2 separate regions of the Homo sapiens genome follow, and region 2 is linked to region 1. A link means that fine-mapping ties the variant in region 1 to the expression of a gene that starts in the linked region. Tissue or cell type: whole blood. Region 1 holds a variant in brackets; the other region holds the start of a gene. All regions are shown on one strand. Distances are between the middles of the regions.

What was found. PIP is the estimated chance that this variant, and not a neighbour inherited with it, causes the effect.
Region 2: EFTUD2 starts here. The variant in region 1 is fine-mapped to the expression of EFTUD2 in whole blood (INTERVAL, PIP above 0.99).

What each region holds. Positions count from the first base shown.
Region 1 is chr17:44,823,340-44,831,298 of GRCh38, reverse strand. GJC1 (gap junction protein gamma 1) reads left to right here and starts at 1,012. Exons shown (of 3, transcript NM_005497.4): 1 at 1,012-1,237. RefSeq lists enhancers at 1-380, 381-1,354 and a silencer at 1,410-1,699. The variant T/G (reference allele first, on the strand shown) is at 3,947.
Region 2 is chr17:44,897,916-44,903,649 of GRCh38, reverse strand. EFTUD2 (elongation factor Tu GTP binding domain containing 2) reads left to right here and starts at 4,205. Exons shown (of 28, transcript NM_004247.4): 1 at 4,205-4,281. DNAAF19 (dynein axonemal assembly factor 19) reads right to left here and starts at 3,921. Exons shown (of 4, transcript NM_213607.3): 1 at 3,791-3,921; 2 at 2,509-2,660; 3 at 1,998-2,130; 4 at 1-1,285. The coding sequence starts at 2,651. The coding sequence ends at 833. It overlaps GFAP (glial fibrillary acidic protein), which reads left to right. Exons shown (of 9, transcript NM_002055.5): 9 at 1-491. It overlaps FAM187A (family with sequence similarity 187 member A), which reads right to left and starts at 217. Exons shown (of 1, transcript NM_001258400.2): 1 at 1-217.

The DNA of each region.
Region 1 (7,959 bases):
TTTAATATTTTGGTAACTAATTCATATTTTTGGAAAACATACTGGCCACACAAAACTGGTCAGTGCATTAGATGCCTAGCCTTCAAGATTTCCACTCTGGGGCTACCCCTTAGGGCTTGGCTTTGGGTGGGGGAGTTTGACTTGCAGCAAGTAACCTCACTTGTTAGCGCTTAATTTCCCCTCTGGTCAAAAGGGCAAAATAATAAAAGCCTGTCCATCGGCATTCTGATGCTCAGATGAGATCATTCCAGAGGTCGCCCATCTCTTTACTGAGCCTTCCTTTATTACCCAAAGTCTTACTCTACTTAAAGCATTTGGAGAATTTTCGGTTTCCTACTGGGCATTTTAAAACTGGGGATTCCTATGCATGAAAATTTTTCCCAAGTCCTCTGAATGGGATCCTGCTGGGATGCAAAGAGTTAAGAGGAAATAGCCTATTAGGGTCTTGCTAATCCGAGAAGTTCAGGACCTGAAAAGTATCTAGAGCACTGCTAAGAGCCCCGACTCTAGCTAGATCCACGCAGGGCCCGCCAGATCCTCGAGGAATTGTAGAGCAGAACCTGGGAGGAGACATTAGCATCCCGTGCTACAATGGACCAAGGCCTCGGCGGAGCGCGCAGAAGACAACTCTGGGCCCGCTAAACCAACCCAGGATACCCAGGTAAGGCGAGAACCCACGGCGCCGTTAGCGGCCCGCTCAAACTGAGGCGCGGCTGGCGGGGGACTCTCGCCCGAAAATCAGCTTGGAAGAATGAACTGTCCGGAGCGAAGTCTGCGCCCACCCGGGGTCCAGACTCCACGCGGGTGACTCCCACGCGCGCCGCGCCTCCGCCGCGTCCCGGACTATCCGAGAGAGCGGCGAGGACTCGACCGCGGAAAGTTGGCGCTCGCGTCGCTTCCCGCGCGTTCTGGGGCGCCCCCCTCCCACTCGAGCGCCACGTGCCGCGCGCCCCCCGCTCCCGGGCCGCGGCGGGACGCCCCCGCCCCCACCGCAGCGCGCAGTGCGCAGGCGCCTTCCCGCGGGTCGCGGCGGCGGGAGCGGGAGGCGGCGGCGGCGGCGGCAGCGGCGGGAGCGGCTTCTGCCTCGGCTGGAGACTGAGGCGAAGGCGGCAGCGGCGGAGGAGGTGGAGGAGAGGCGAGGGTGAAGGCGATGGCGACGCGGGGCACATGAGGCCGCGACCGGCGGGACGGGCCGAGGCCCGGCGGAGGAGGCGGCTCCGGGGGAACCCGCCGCCGGGTGAGGGGCGGCCGCAGGGCCGGCTGAGGAGAAGCGGGCCAGGGGCGGGGTCCCAGGGGGAGGCGGGAGAACTCTTGGGGAGCCCGGGGAGGGGCCGAGGAGAACCTCCGGAGGTCCGGGGAGGAGCGCGGCCAGAGCGGGAGAAGGAGGGGGGCGCCGCCGAGGGGTTCCCGCCGAGTCCGGAGGGGCGTCGCCGGCCCGCGTCCTGCCACTGTCCCCGGCGCACCCTCCCTCTTTGTCCCCAGGCGCGCGGCTCCCAAATCGGGAGGGAAACGGCTCGGGGGTGTCCTGGGCCGCGGAGGTGTCGGGCGACGGTCGGGGAGCCCGGACAGAAGCGGCGCGCACTCGGCGGCGCCCCGGCGGTGCCGACAACTACCCGGGCGGTTAGGGGCGCAGGGCGGAGCCGGGCCGCCCCTCGCCGCCCGGGCTCTTCGCGGGCTGCTCTTTGTCTCCCCGACCTCGATCCCTGCGTCTCCGGCGGCGTGCGGGCTCGTCTGAGGCTTCCCGCATCTCCCCGCTGGAACTCCTGCCTCCCGGGGGTTAGAGGAGGGTTCGTTCGAGGGCTGGAAGCGGGAAAGCGGGGCGGAAGGACTGGGCTCATCGCCTCCTGATTAACTCGTTGTCTTTACTTAAAATGACTTTTCCCCCACTTTGTCAAACTTGAGAACTGTTTTGTGTGTGTGTGTGTTTCCTTAAGTCTCTAGCTTCAAAATTAAGAGTAGGCGCTACCGCTGTGATTGTGGGCAGTTGTGTGGTTGGCGGCTGCGTTTGGAGCTCTGAGTTGAAAAGATGTACGTGAATGTATGGTTTAGATTTTGTTCTTTTTTTTGCGATTGTCTGATTGGGAGTACTTTTCCTTTGCGAAATGGGCGAATTTGGTTTTCTTTTTGTTCATTGAGAACTGGCAGTGATACCGATTTCATTATGCTCATGCTTAATTTTGTTAGCATCAAGACGATGTGAAATCGAGTAAGTTAAGTTTGAATAAGTTCAGGCTGAGGGTCATCTTGTATGCCTGATAAGTCTAAATTTGTTATATGTTTGTGTCGTGTATACGTTCAAGTGAATATATGTGAAAGCGCTATAAAAAATCAAACTACATAAATGAAAGGGATTTTAATTTCCTGATAAGCAGGAAACAGCATATCTCCAGTACTTTAATATCTGTAGAAAAATGCGTTAATAATGTCATTTAGGAATAAAATATTTCTCTCCCTAGAGAGGGTTTAGGTATTATTCAGAGTAAAAGAGCAAAAAAATTTCAACCTCAGAGGGTATGGAAAAAAACAGAAAAATACCCTTACTTCCAGAGCTCCTGATTAAAATATTGTGAGTTGTGGGTTAAGTTTACTGATTTAAAAAAAACTTAGCATAGAGTTGTATCACTGCAGTTGCTTTGAATGTCTTAAGTACTGTGTAATGTCAGAATTAAACACGAACTAACTTTTCTGGGTAGAAGGTAAAAAGCTCCAATAAACAGATCTTAGTTTTCCCCAGATTTTTGTGCCCAGAGTGCTGTAGGCAAAGGGCATATTGAAGAGATACATAGAAGTTGTATGGAAGGTCTGTTAATATTTGTCCTGATTTGTAATGGCTTAATATTATTTACTACTTAAACTGTTGTGCATTTTTCCAAAGCATTTCAAACAACCTCTTCAAAAGCCAGCACTTTTAACTTTTGAGGTTGTGTGACTTAAGAATTGTTTTCTACCAGAAACAGTTCTCTTAAAAAGTTCTACCACAGTTCTCTTAAAAAGGAGCAAAGGACCTGGTAATTTTCTCTGTAATCAATTCATGCAGGTAAAATTGAGTTTTAGCCTTTAATCCAGAGGACTTAATTAACATATCTCCAGCATAACAATCTTACTTATAAATGCTGTTATCCTTTGTCAATTAAATTTTATTCTTATATTTGTATAAGTCAGCCAAAGGGAAGGAATGCAGGGTTGTGTTTCTGATTAGTCCACTTCCCCCCAGGTCCAGGCTTGCCTATCAATTGAGTAATGAGGATCTTAGAATACAGGATATATAATTTAAATCCAGAGCATCGTTCTCTTAACAAATGCTTAGTGTTTGTTCCATGCCTAATTCAATGCAAAGTGATGAGTTCCAAAAAATATTGCTTTATTTGTTGTATGTTCACATTTCAAAATTGGTGAGGTGTGTTCTTTTTTCTTTTTCCTTTTCCTTTTTTTTTTGAGATGGAGTCTTGCTCTGTCGCCCAGGCTAGAGTGCAGTGGCTGGGACTACAGGTACCCGCCACCACGCCTGGCTAATTTTTTTTTGTAGTTTTAGCAGAGATGGGGTTTCACCATGTTAGCCATGATGGTCCCGATCTCCTGACCTTGTGATCCTCCCGCCTCGGCCTCCCAGAGTGCTGGGATTACAGGCGTGAGCCACCGTGCCCGGCCATCCTTTTTTTTTTCAAAGACATTGCTATGATGCCCAGGCTGTCATAGTACACTGCAGCCTCAAATTCCTGGGCTCAAGCCATCCTCCTGCCTCAGCCTCCTGAGTATACCCAGCTAATTTCTTTTTTCTCCTCCTTTCCTGTCCTGTCCTGTCCTTCCTTCCTATAGTTAAGTTTGACTAGGGGGTATGATTACTTATTTCTGAACTTATGCTTTTCTTGTAGTGTAGAAATACATGTGGCTTCTGTTCAAAATATTTGATAAAAATTTAGGCAAAGAAAAAGCAGGAATTTTTTTT[T/G]TTTGTTTGTTTGTTTTTGAGACGGAGTTTAGCTCTTATTGCCCAGGCTGGAGTGCAATGGTGCTATCTTGTCTCACTGCAACGGTGCTATCTTGTCTCACTGCAACCTCCGCCTCCCGAGTTCAAGTGATTCTCATGCCTCAGCCTCCCAAGTAGCTGGGATTACAGGAATGCCCCACCATGCCCAGCTAATTTTGTATTTTTTAGTAGAGACGGGGTTTCACCATGTTGGTCAGGCTGGTCTCCAACTCTTGACATTAGGTGATCCGCCTGCCTCTGCCTTCCAGAGTGCTGGGATTACAGGTGTGAGCCACCGCACTCGACCAGATTATTAGTTTTGTAAGACCGTTCCTTTGAGAATAGGTATGAGAAGATAGATTTTGGCTGATATCGTTAACCTGAAATTTAGACATAGAAAACAGTTCTGAGCTGTTAATATCAGCTGAATGGCAACAGTTGTTTTTCAACATACTGCTACAGCTGATGAGTTCAGTTTGTGTTGAAATAAGAACCTAGTAAAATGTATTTTTAAAAATATTTTTTAAGATTTAAATACAAATAATTTTAAATACAAAAAACTAGCTGGGCGTTTGAGCATTGCTATTTACTGCAACTCTAAAGAGTGAATGACCTGTTAGTCAGTACTGGCTGGCATACAGTTATACATTCTTGAATTTTACAAGTACTGTAGTTGGCTGAGAGCAGTCCTTGGCAATAAAGGTTTATCTTTCAGACCTGTGGAATATATTGCCCAAAGAGTTTTCCTAAAACAAGGATATGATGATCTCTTTGCAGATAGCATTTTACTTTTTTTTTTTTTTTTTAGACGGAGTCTCGCTCCATTGCCCAGGCTGGAGTGCAGTGGCGTGATCTCTGCTCACCACAAGCTCCACCTCCCGAGTTCATGCCATTCTCCTGCCTCAGCCTCCTGTGTAGCTGGGACTACAGGCGTCCACCACCATGCCCGGCTAATTTTTTGTATTTTTAGTAGAGACTGTTTCATCGTGTTAACCAGGATGGTCTCGATCTCCTGATCTCATGATCCGGCCACCTCGGCCTCCCAAAATGCTGGGGTTACAGTCGTGAGCCACCGTGCCCGGCCAGCATTTTACTTCTAAAGAAATGAAATGGGGCCAGGAGTGGTGGCTGATGCTTATAATCCCAGCACTTTGGGAGGCCAAGGCGGGTGGATCACCTGAGGTCAGGAGTTCAAGACCAGCCTAGCCAACATGGTGAAATCCCATTTCTACTAAAAGTACAAAAAATTACCTGGGCGTGGTGGCAGTCATCTGTAATCCCAGCTACTCGGGAGGCTGAGGCAGGCAAATGGCTTGAACCTGGGAGGTGGAGGTTGCAGTTAGCCGAGATCGCATCACTGCTCTCCAGCCTGGGCGACAGAGCGAGACTCTGTCTCAAAATAAAAAGAAAGAAATGAAGTATTCTGGTAAATGAATTCTTCTCCAGCTCTCAGTTGAAGCTTTGTTCTTTGAGGCTATAATGCTTGTAATACAAGCACAATTTGGACAAAAGCATTCTGGTGCCCATTAAGTCATTCAACTTTTTTTTTTTTTTTCTTTTGAGACTGAGTCTCACTCTTTCACCCAGGGTGGAGTGCAGTGGCACGATCTTGGCTCACTGCAACCTCCGTCTCCCAGGTTCAAGGAATTCTCTTGCCTCAGCCTTGCGAGAAGCTGGGATTATAGGTGTCCACCACCACGCCCAGCTAATTTTTGTATTTTTAGTAGAGAAAGGGTTTCACCATGTTGGCTAGGCTGGTCTCGAACTCCTGACCTCAGGTTGCCTCAGCCTCTCAAAGTGCTGGGATTACAGACGCGAACCACTGTGTCTGGCCCTTTTTATTTTTTTGAGACGGAGTTTTGCTCTTGTTGCCTAGGCTGGAGTGCAGTCGCGCAATCTCGGCTCACCGCAACCTCTGCCCCCTGGGCAAGATTCTCTTGCCTCAGCCTCCCAAGTAGCTGGGATTACAGGCATGCACCACCATGCCCAGCTAATTTTGTATTGGTAGAGACAGGGTTTCTCCATGTTGGTCAGGCTGGTCTCCTGACCTCAGGTGATCCACCTGCCTCGGTCTCCCAAAGTGCTGGGATTACAGGCATGAGCCACTGCGCCCAGCCTTTTTTTTTTTTTTTTTTTTTTTTTTTTTGTAATTGAGACAGAGTCTTGTTCTGTAGCCCAGGCTAAAGTGTAGTGGTGCTCTCAAGCGATCCTTCCACCACAGCATCCCTAGTAGCTGGGACCACAGGCCCACACCGCCACCACGCCCAGTTAATTTTAAAATTTTTTTTGGAAGAGACAGGGTCTTGTTTTGTTGCCCAGGCTGGTCTTGAACTCCTGGGCTCAAGCAGTCCTCTTGGCCTCTCAAATATGGGGATTACAGGCCAAGGCACCTGGATCCCAACGTTTTTTTTTTTTTTTTCTTCCCCAAAACATATAAGCACTTGATTAAAAAAAAAAAATAGTTGGACTCTTTCTTTCCCCCCCTTCTCACTATTGCACTTGACTAATTTTTTTTTTTTTTTTTTTAAGACAGTCTTGTTCTGTCATCCAGGCTGGAGTTGCAGTGGTGCGATCTCGGCTCGCTGCAACCTCTGCCTCCCAGGTTCAAGCAATTCTCCTGCCTCAGCCTCCCAAGTAATTGGGACTACTGGCGCATGCTGCCACGCCTGGCTAATTTGACTGATTTTATTTTATTTATTTTATTTTTGAGACAGAGCCTCACTGTGTCACCCAGTCTGGAGTGCAGTGGCACACATGTACTCCCAGCACTTTCGGAGGCTGAGGCTAGAGGATACCTTGAGCCCAGGAGTTTGAGACCACCCTGGGCAACATAGTGAGGGCCCTGTCTCTGCAAAAAGTAATTTGAAAATTAGCTGGATGTGGTGGCATACACCTGTGGTTTCAGCTACTCAGGAGGATGAGGCAGGAGGATTTTTTGAGCCCAGAAGTTGAAGGCTACAGTGAGTTGTGATCACACCATGCACTCCACCCTGGTCAACAGAGTGGGACAGTCTCTATTTGAAAAAAGAGGCCGGGTGCGGTGGCTCACACCTGTAATCCCAGCACTTTGGTAGGCCGAGGCAGGCAGGTCACAAGGTCAGGAGTTCGAGACCATCCTGGCCAACATGGTGAAACCCTATCTCTACTAAAATACAAAAAATTAGCCGGGCATGGTGGCGCGCGCCTGTAATCCCAACTACTCTGGAGGCTGAGGCAGGGGAATCGCTTGAACCCGGGAGGTGGAGGTTGCAGTGAGCTGAGATTGTGCCGCTGCACTCCAGCCTGGCAACAGAGCAAGACTCCATCTCAAAAAACGAAAAGAGGGCCAGGCACAGTGACTCACGCCTTGTAATCCCATCACTTTGGGAGGCCGAGGTGGGCAGGTCATGAGATCAGGAGATCGAGACCATCCTGGCTAACACCGTGAAACCCCGTCTCTACTAAAAATACAAAAAATTAGCCAGGTGTGGTGGCACACGCCAGTAGTCCCAGCTACTTAGGAGGCTGCGGCAGGAGAATCGCTTGAACCTGGGAGGCAGAGGTTGCAGTGAGCTAAGATTGTGCCACTGCACTCCAGGCTAGGCGACAGAACAAGACTCCATCTCAAAAAAAAAAAAAGGAAAGGAAAGAAAGGCCAGGCATGGTGCCTCACACCAGTAATCACAGCTCTTCTGGAGGTCATGGCAGGAGGATTGCTTGAGTCCAGGAGTTCAAGACCAACCTGGGCAATATGATGAGACCCTGTCTCTACAAAAATAAGAAATTTTAAAAAAAAGGAGGAAAGAGGCTAGGTACGGTGGCTCACGCCTGTAATCTCAGCACTTTGGGAGGCCGAGGCGGGGGGATCATGAGGTCAAGAGATCAAGACCATCCTGGCCAACATGGTGAAACCCCGTCTCTACTAAAAATACAAAAATTAGCTGGGCCTGGTGGCACACACCTGTAGTCCCAGCTACTTGCGAGACTGAGACAGGAGAATCACTTGAACCCGGGAG
Region 2 (5,734 bases), 73 kb before region 1:
TGTACAAGATGCCCTTCTAACATTCCAGACCTGATCTCAGGGTGGGGGGGGAAAGCCATTCTAGAACCTGGCCTTTACTCCCCTTTCTAGAACACTGGCGCTCACCCAAGAATGGGTCAAAGGAAACCGGAATGAGAAGGGCGGGCCGAGGTGCTCGGGCAGGGAGATCTCTGCCTCAGTGCTCCAGGCCCTGCCCTGCCAGCCTGGTGGAAAAGTCTTTCATCAACCTGGGGGATGAAGGAAACCCACCCTCCTGCATATCTGGCCATCCGGGAGGCTGGCTGGACCTGAGCTGATGGCTTGGGACTTTCCCAGGCCCAACCTGCACAAGAACTGAGTCTCTAGGGGAAAATTCAACACCTCAAATGATGTAGTATTTGATCATTTGTTGATTACATGTCCATTCATTGGTTTGGGGCTATAAACATTCTTGTTAAGAGCTGTGGAGATCAGTGTTTGTTTACCATAAAGATTTTGCTTTTTCCCTTTTATGAGTGGAGGCTGTAACTGGTATAGCCAGCATTTGGTTGGGCACACACTCATCTCTCAAGGCCAGTGGGCTAGAGGCTTGGCAGACTCTAAGGGTGGGAAACAAAACCGCTCTCAACTTCCTGAGCTCTTGACTGTCCATGGATACACACAGTTCAAAACAGCGAGACACTGAGGGACTGGAGAAGTGGGGAAGACTTGATTCCTGTTTTTGCTCTGAAAATTCCAAGTTGAGAAGGGAACCAGGTGTGGGTTTCTTATTATGGTCCTGCAGAACCCCCAAGACAACAACCAAAAAACTGCCTCCAGTGACCACTGGGACCTCTGAGGGTAGCTTGCCGCATCAGTCAACCTGGTACAGCTCCAGCAGCTCCTGCAGGAGCCTCTCCTCCTCCTGGAGCCCACCAGACTGCTCCTCCAGACCCTGCTCCTCCCAGCTGAGCCCCTCCTTCACGGATCTGGGGTTGCCCATGGCTTGCAGCTTCTGAAACAAGCCCTTGCAGCTCTCTCTCTCTGCCCGGCTCAGCAGGCTTAGGTTCAGGGTGAAGCGCCCAGTGCTCGCCAGGCTGCATAGGATCCCCAGCACCGCTGCCCGGTCAGCCGGCCCCACGTGATCAGCCAGTGCCACCAGCAGCTCCCCAAGAAGTCCAAATCCCACATCTGTCTGGAAGAGGCAGCCGAGCCTTGGACCCCCAAGCTGCAGTAGAGCCTGGTAGCGCTCTGGCCCACTTGGCAAGTGTCGTCGCCAATCACGATAGAAGTCAGCAGACGTCTCGGGCTGGAGGGGGGCTTTCTCCTGGACCACAAAGGAAGGAAAGGGAGTCAGGAGCTCTTCCAGCTGTTCTGCAACAGTGACAGGGAGGGGAGCCTGTAGCTCTTCATCTTACTGTCTTCATCTCACTACTGTCTGAGCACTGGGAAAGCTGTGGTCCTTGGCGGCCTCATTTTCAGATGAGGAAACTGGGGATGAAACAGGGAGGGCCCCAAGGAATCCACGCCATGATTTGAGATTCTCATTTATACTGGAATTTTCCTACTCATGAATGGAGACATAGCTCTGGTCTTCAAGAGTAAGTCAGGGTTTACTGTAAGTCGGGTGGATGGGTTGATTGGAAATCTCAGGAAGAGAGAAAGGAACTCAAGGATCTGAATGTTGGGGTCTCTCTCTCAACACTGCCACAGGATCATTACACTAGACACCATACAACCCAGAGGCAGAGCATCCCAATTCTGATCTGAGAATGAAAGTCAAAGGACTAAGGGAAGCCGACCTTCCTAGCCCAACTTTCTGACTCATTCTGCCCACTTCAACTCAGCTTTGCCATCTGCTGTTTGTTTTTCTTTCTGGGATTGGAGGCAGAAACCTATCTCTGTTGGTTTAACATGACAAATAAAGAAGAGGTATGTGTGGTTAAAAAAACAAAACAAAACAAAACAAAATGAAAAAACAGGATTGAAGCTTTAGGGCAGAGAATCCTGCTGGACTAAAGGGGCAGGGCCTCACCTACCGGGGAGATTTCAGTGGCCACATCCTGGAAGGTCCTTCCCTGAATAGTGTGACAGTTCCAGGGCACAGTTCTCTTTCCTCCCATCTTATCCTTCCGCTCCAGTGGCTTCAGATGTGATGCAAGGACAATACCCCTGTAGGCAAAGGACAGAAATTAGGCAATGGACTTAATGCTGTGTCTGTGGGTGTGAGGCAGCTAGACTTTGCATGGTATAGGATAAACCTGTTACGGACCAATATGACCATAATAATAACAACAGCGATAGCTGACTGCTTTCAAGCACCTCACATGTGTCAGACACTTGCTCAGTCTTATGTGCAAGAACTCATTTAATTATAACAGTTACTGTTCTACAGATAAATAATTGAGACTCAGAGAAGTTAAGGAAATTGCATAAGATCAAACAGTAGACGGTGGGGCCAGGACTGAAGCCCAGAATGGTTTGATTTCAGAGTTAACTACTATAATCCACCATAACAGGAGGGCCTGAGAAAAATGGCAGTGAGCCAACCTGAACTCCTCATAGGAAGCCACCCTCTGTTCCACTGCCCGTAACTTGGCAGCATTCTCCCGTTTGTACTTCTCATCAGCAGTGAGTGCAGCCTGCAGCTCTTTCTCCAAAGCCTTGAAGTTGATGATGTCATTCCTTTCCATGGCCTGTGCCTGGGAAGGCAAAGGGAATACATGTCAGTGGACAGTCAATATCAGGGGAAAGAGGGTACCTCTGAATTATTCACCAGAACACAAAATGACCCCAAAGCACTCTGGACATCATGTCACTCAGATTGGGAGGTGTTACAAAAATCTGGTTTTCTATTTTACAAAGACAAGTTGAATTTCACAGTGAGGACTTACACAAGACTTGTCCCTGAAAATAGAATACAGAGTCCTGACTTTCAATTTGGAGTTCTGTCTTAATTTTGCTCTTTGCCTCTAAAAATATTTTTAATTTTGGTGCTTCAGTCGAGGAGGCATTGGGATCTCAGAATTCAGTTTCTTCACTCTTCCCCCATAGGATTGTTCTACAGCAAGTCGTTTCGACAGGGGACCTCACACAAAGGCAGAACTCTTGTTAGTTACCCTTGAGCTCGGGGATAAAGTTTCATTCTTCATTGAATGTCTTTAATGAGGAAGGAGACTTTCACCCAAACCAGATGCAATGACTGAGCAGGAAATCAAGTAGAAGGGGCAAAGGAAGGAGCTCAATGACCCCATCCCCAAATCCCTCTGTCCAGCCCAGGGCTGGAACAGAGGTCCCTAGGTACCTGGGCAATGCCTTTAGTTCTATCACTGTACTTCTGTAGTTTCTGCATATCTGAGGCTGACTGATCATTTCTACAGAGATATTCTTTTCTTTTTTTTTTTTTCTGGCTCTGTTGCCCAGGCTGGAGTGCAGTGGCGCGATCTTGGCTCATTGCAACCTCTGCCTCCGGGGTTCAAGCAATTTTCGATCCTGACCTCAAGTAATCCGCGCGCCTCGGCCTCCCAAAGTGCTGGGATTACAGGCGTGAGCCACTGCAGAGAGATTCTCTACGTGGGTTCTAGTCGTGGCTCTGGCATTTACTTGTGGGACCTCTCTGAACTGCAAACTCCTAGTGAGTTGAGCTAGATTTTGTGGCGGGGTCATCACCAACAGCCCTAGCGCAAGGAAGCAGGAAGTCCCCAACCAATCCCATAGCCACCCTACCCCAACGTAGGGAATCTGAACGCCAAGAAGGGGCTGGGGTGGCCAGTAACCGAAATCAGGTGTCCAGTTCTCAGCCCTCCCCAGGCATTTAATACATAGAACTAACCCTTCCGTCCCCTTACTCAGCCTCCCGGACCTTCACCCCAGCAGTCCCGGCCTTGGTCCCCTTGCTTTCTTTGGGGATCCCCTGATAAACCAGAACAGGAGGGCAACCCCGCGCAGACCACGCCCGCAGCTGTGGTTGCCTAGCAACTGCGCTAACAGCCTGACCACGTGATCTGCCCGAAGGCCCCTCCCCCCATTTTCAGGGTGGTCCCGAGGCGCCTGATCAGATTCGTTCATCCTCAGCTCTCACCCTCTTTGGAGCAGCCCACGTCTTGGGCTACTCGTCTTGGGGACCCGCTACTCCGCCTTGCCAGTCCGCGGCGGGCATACCTCGGAACTGGTCCTCAGGCAGAGGGTTGTCCTCCCGGGCAGAAAGGCGACAGCGGCGTCTGCGGGGTCCTTCCTGGCGGCGGGCGCAGGCGTTTCCTCGGCGTGGGGCGGAAGCACGATCTCCGGCAGCGGCCTGGGAACTCTTAGCTGAGCAGGCGAGAGGTAAGTTGAAGCGGGTCAGCGGCACGGAAGGGTTGCTCCAGGTGGGATAGGAAATTAAAAAGCGTCAGATCTGGAAGGGGCCTTATATGCTATTGGCCCCTTTCGCTTTACGGATCGGTAAATTGAGGCCTGGAGCGGGAAAAAGAATGGAAGACCCTGTCGTCCTCGTGCCTTCCCAAGGCTTCCGAAGCGCGCACACACGCACACACCTCGATTTCGGGGCTGCCTCTATAGCCTCAGTCCGTAAAATCGTATCGCTAGGTAGGAGTGGTGCTCTAACTGTCCAGTCCCCTCGCTCACTTCCTCTTCTATCCGTGCCGCTTTCAGCCGTTCTTTGCCAAGTTCCCTCCGAAGTCCTCTGAGCTCCTGCATTGTAGCGGGAAGCGGCAGTGAGGTTTGTTACCATGAGTCGCTAGTTTTGTGTAACTGTGGGCAAATCAGCTATATTCTGTGTACCTTGTTAGAGTCATTCATTAGTTCAGTAAATACTTATTGAGGGCTTAGTCTATGCTAGGCACAGTACTAAGTGAACAAAGTCTTTGCTTCAATTGTAGTTGGGGAAATGAACAGTAAACAACTAGATACAAGTCAGCTAGTGATAAATGTATAACATTTGTGAATAGCAATAAAACAGTGAAAGTGGGAAGTTGGAGAGTATGTATGGGGGACTTTTTAGAGTGACAGAGAAGATGACATTTTAGTGGAGACTTGATTGAAATAAAGGAACAAGGTGAAAAATATCAAAGGGGAGAGCGTTTTGGACAAAGAGAAAGGCAAGTGCAGTGGCCCTGAGGCAGAAATGAGCTTGGCTTGTTCCATGAACAGCTTTCTATAACAGTTTCTTCAATCGGCCGGGCGCGGTGGCTCACGCCTGTAATCCCAGCACTTTGGGAGAAAGACGCGGGCGGATCACCTGAGGTCAGGAGTTCGAGACCAGCCTGGCCAACATGGTGAAAACCCATCTCTACTAAGAATACAAAAAAATTAGCCAGGCGTAGTGGTGCACTCCTGTAGTCCCAACTACTCGGGAGGCTGAGGCAGGAGAATCGCTTGAAACCAGGAGGCGGAGGTTGCAGTGAACTGAGATCGTGCCGTTGTACTCCAGCCTGGGCAACAAGAGCAAAACTCTGTCTCAAAAAATATATATAAAATAAATAAATAATTTCTTCAATCCCTTGACTGGGGTCTTGGGAGAATGAGATAAGCATAAATGCGATAGTAGCTTTTTAGAAGTAAAAAGAATATGCATGTGAAAGTTTCCATAATAATTTACATTTAATTATTGGTCCTTGGAGCTCCAATTCTCTCTCTACATTCAGCACCCAGCAGGTGGCATTGAGGGAGTTGGAGGTATCAGTCTAATCCAAGAAATATCAGCATCTTAAAATTAAACATCCCATTCAGTTAACATTTATCCAGTTCCTACTTATGCAAGGTGCTGTCTTGGCTATTG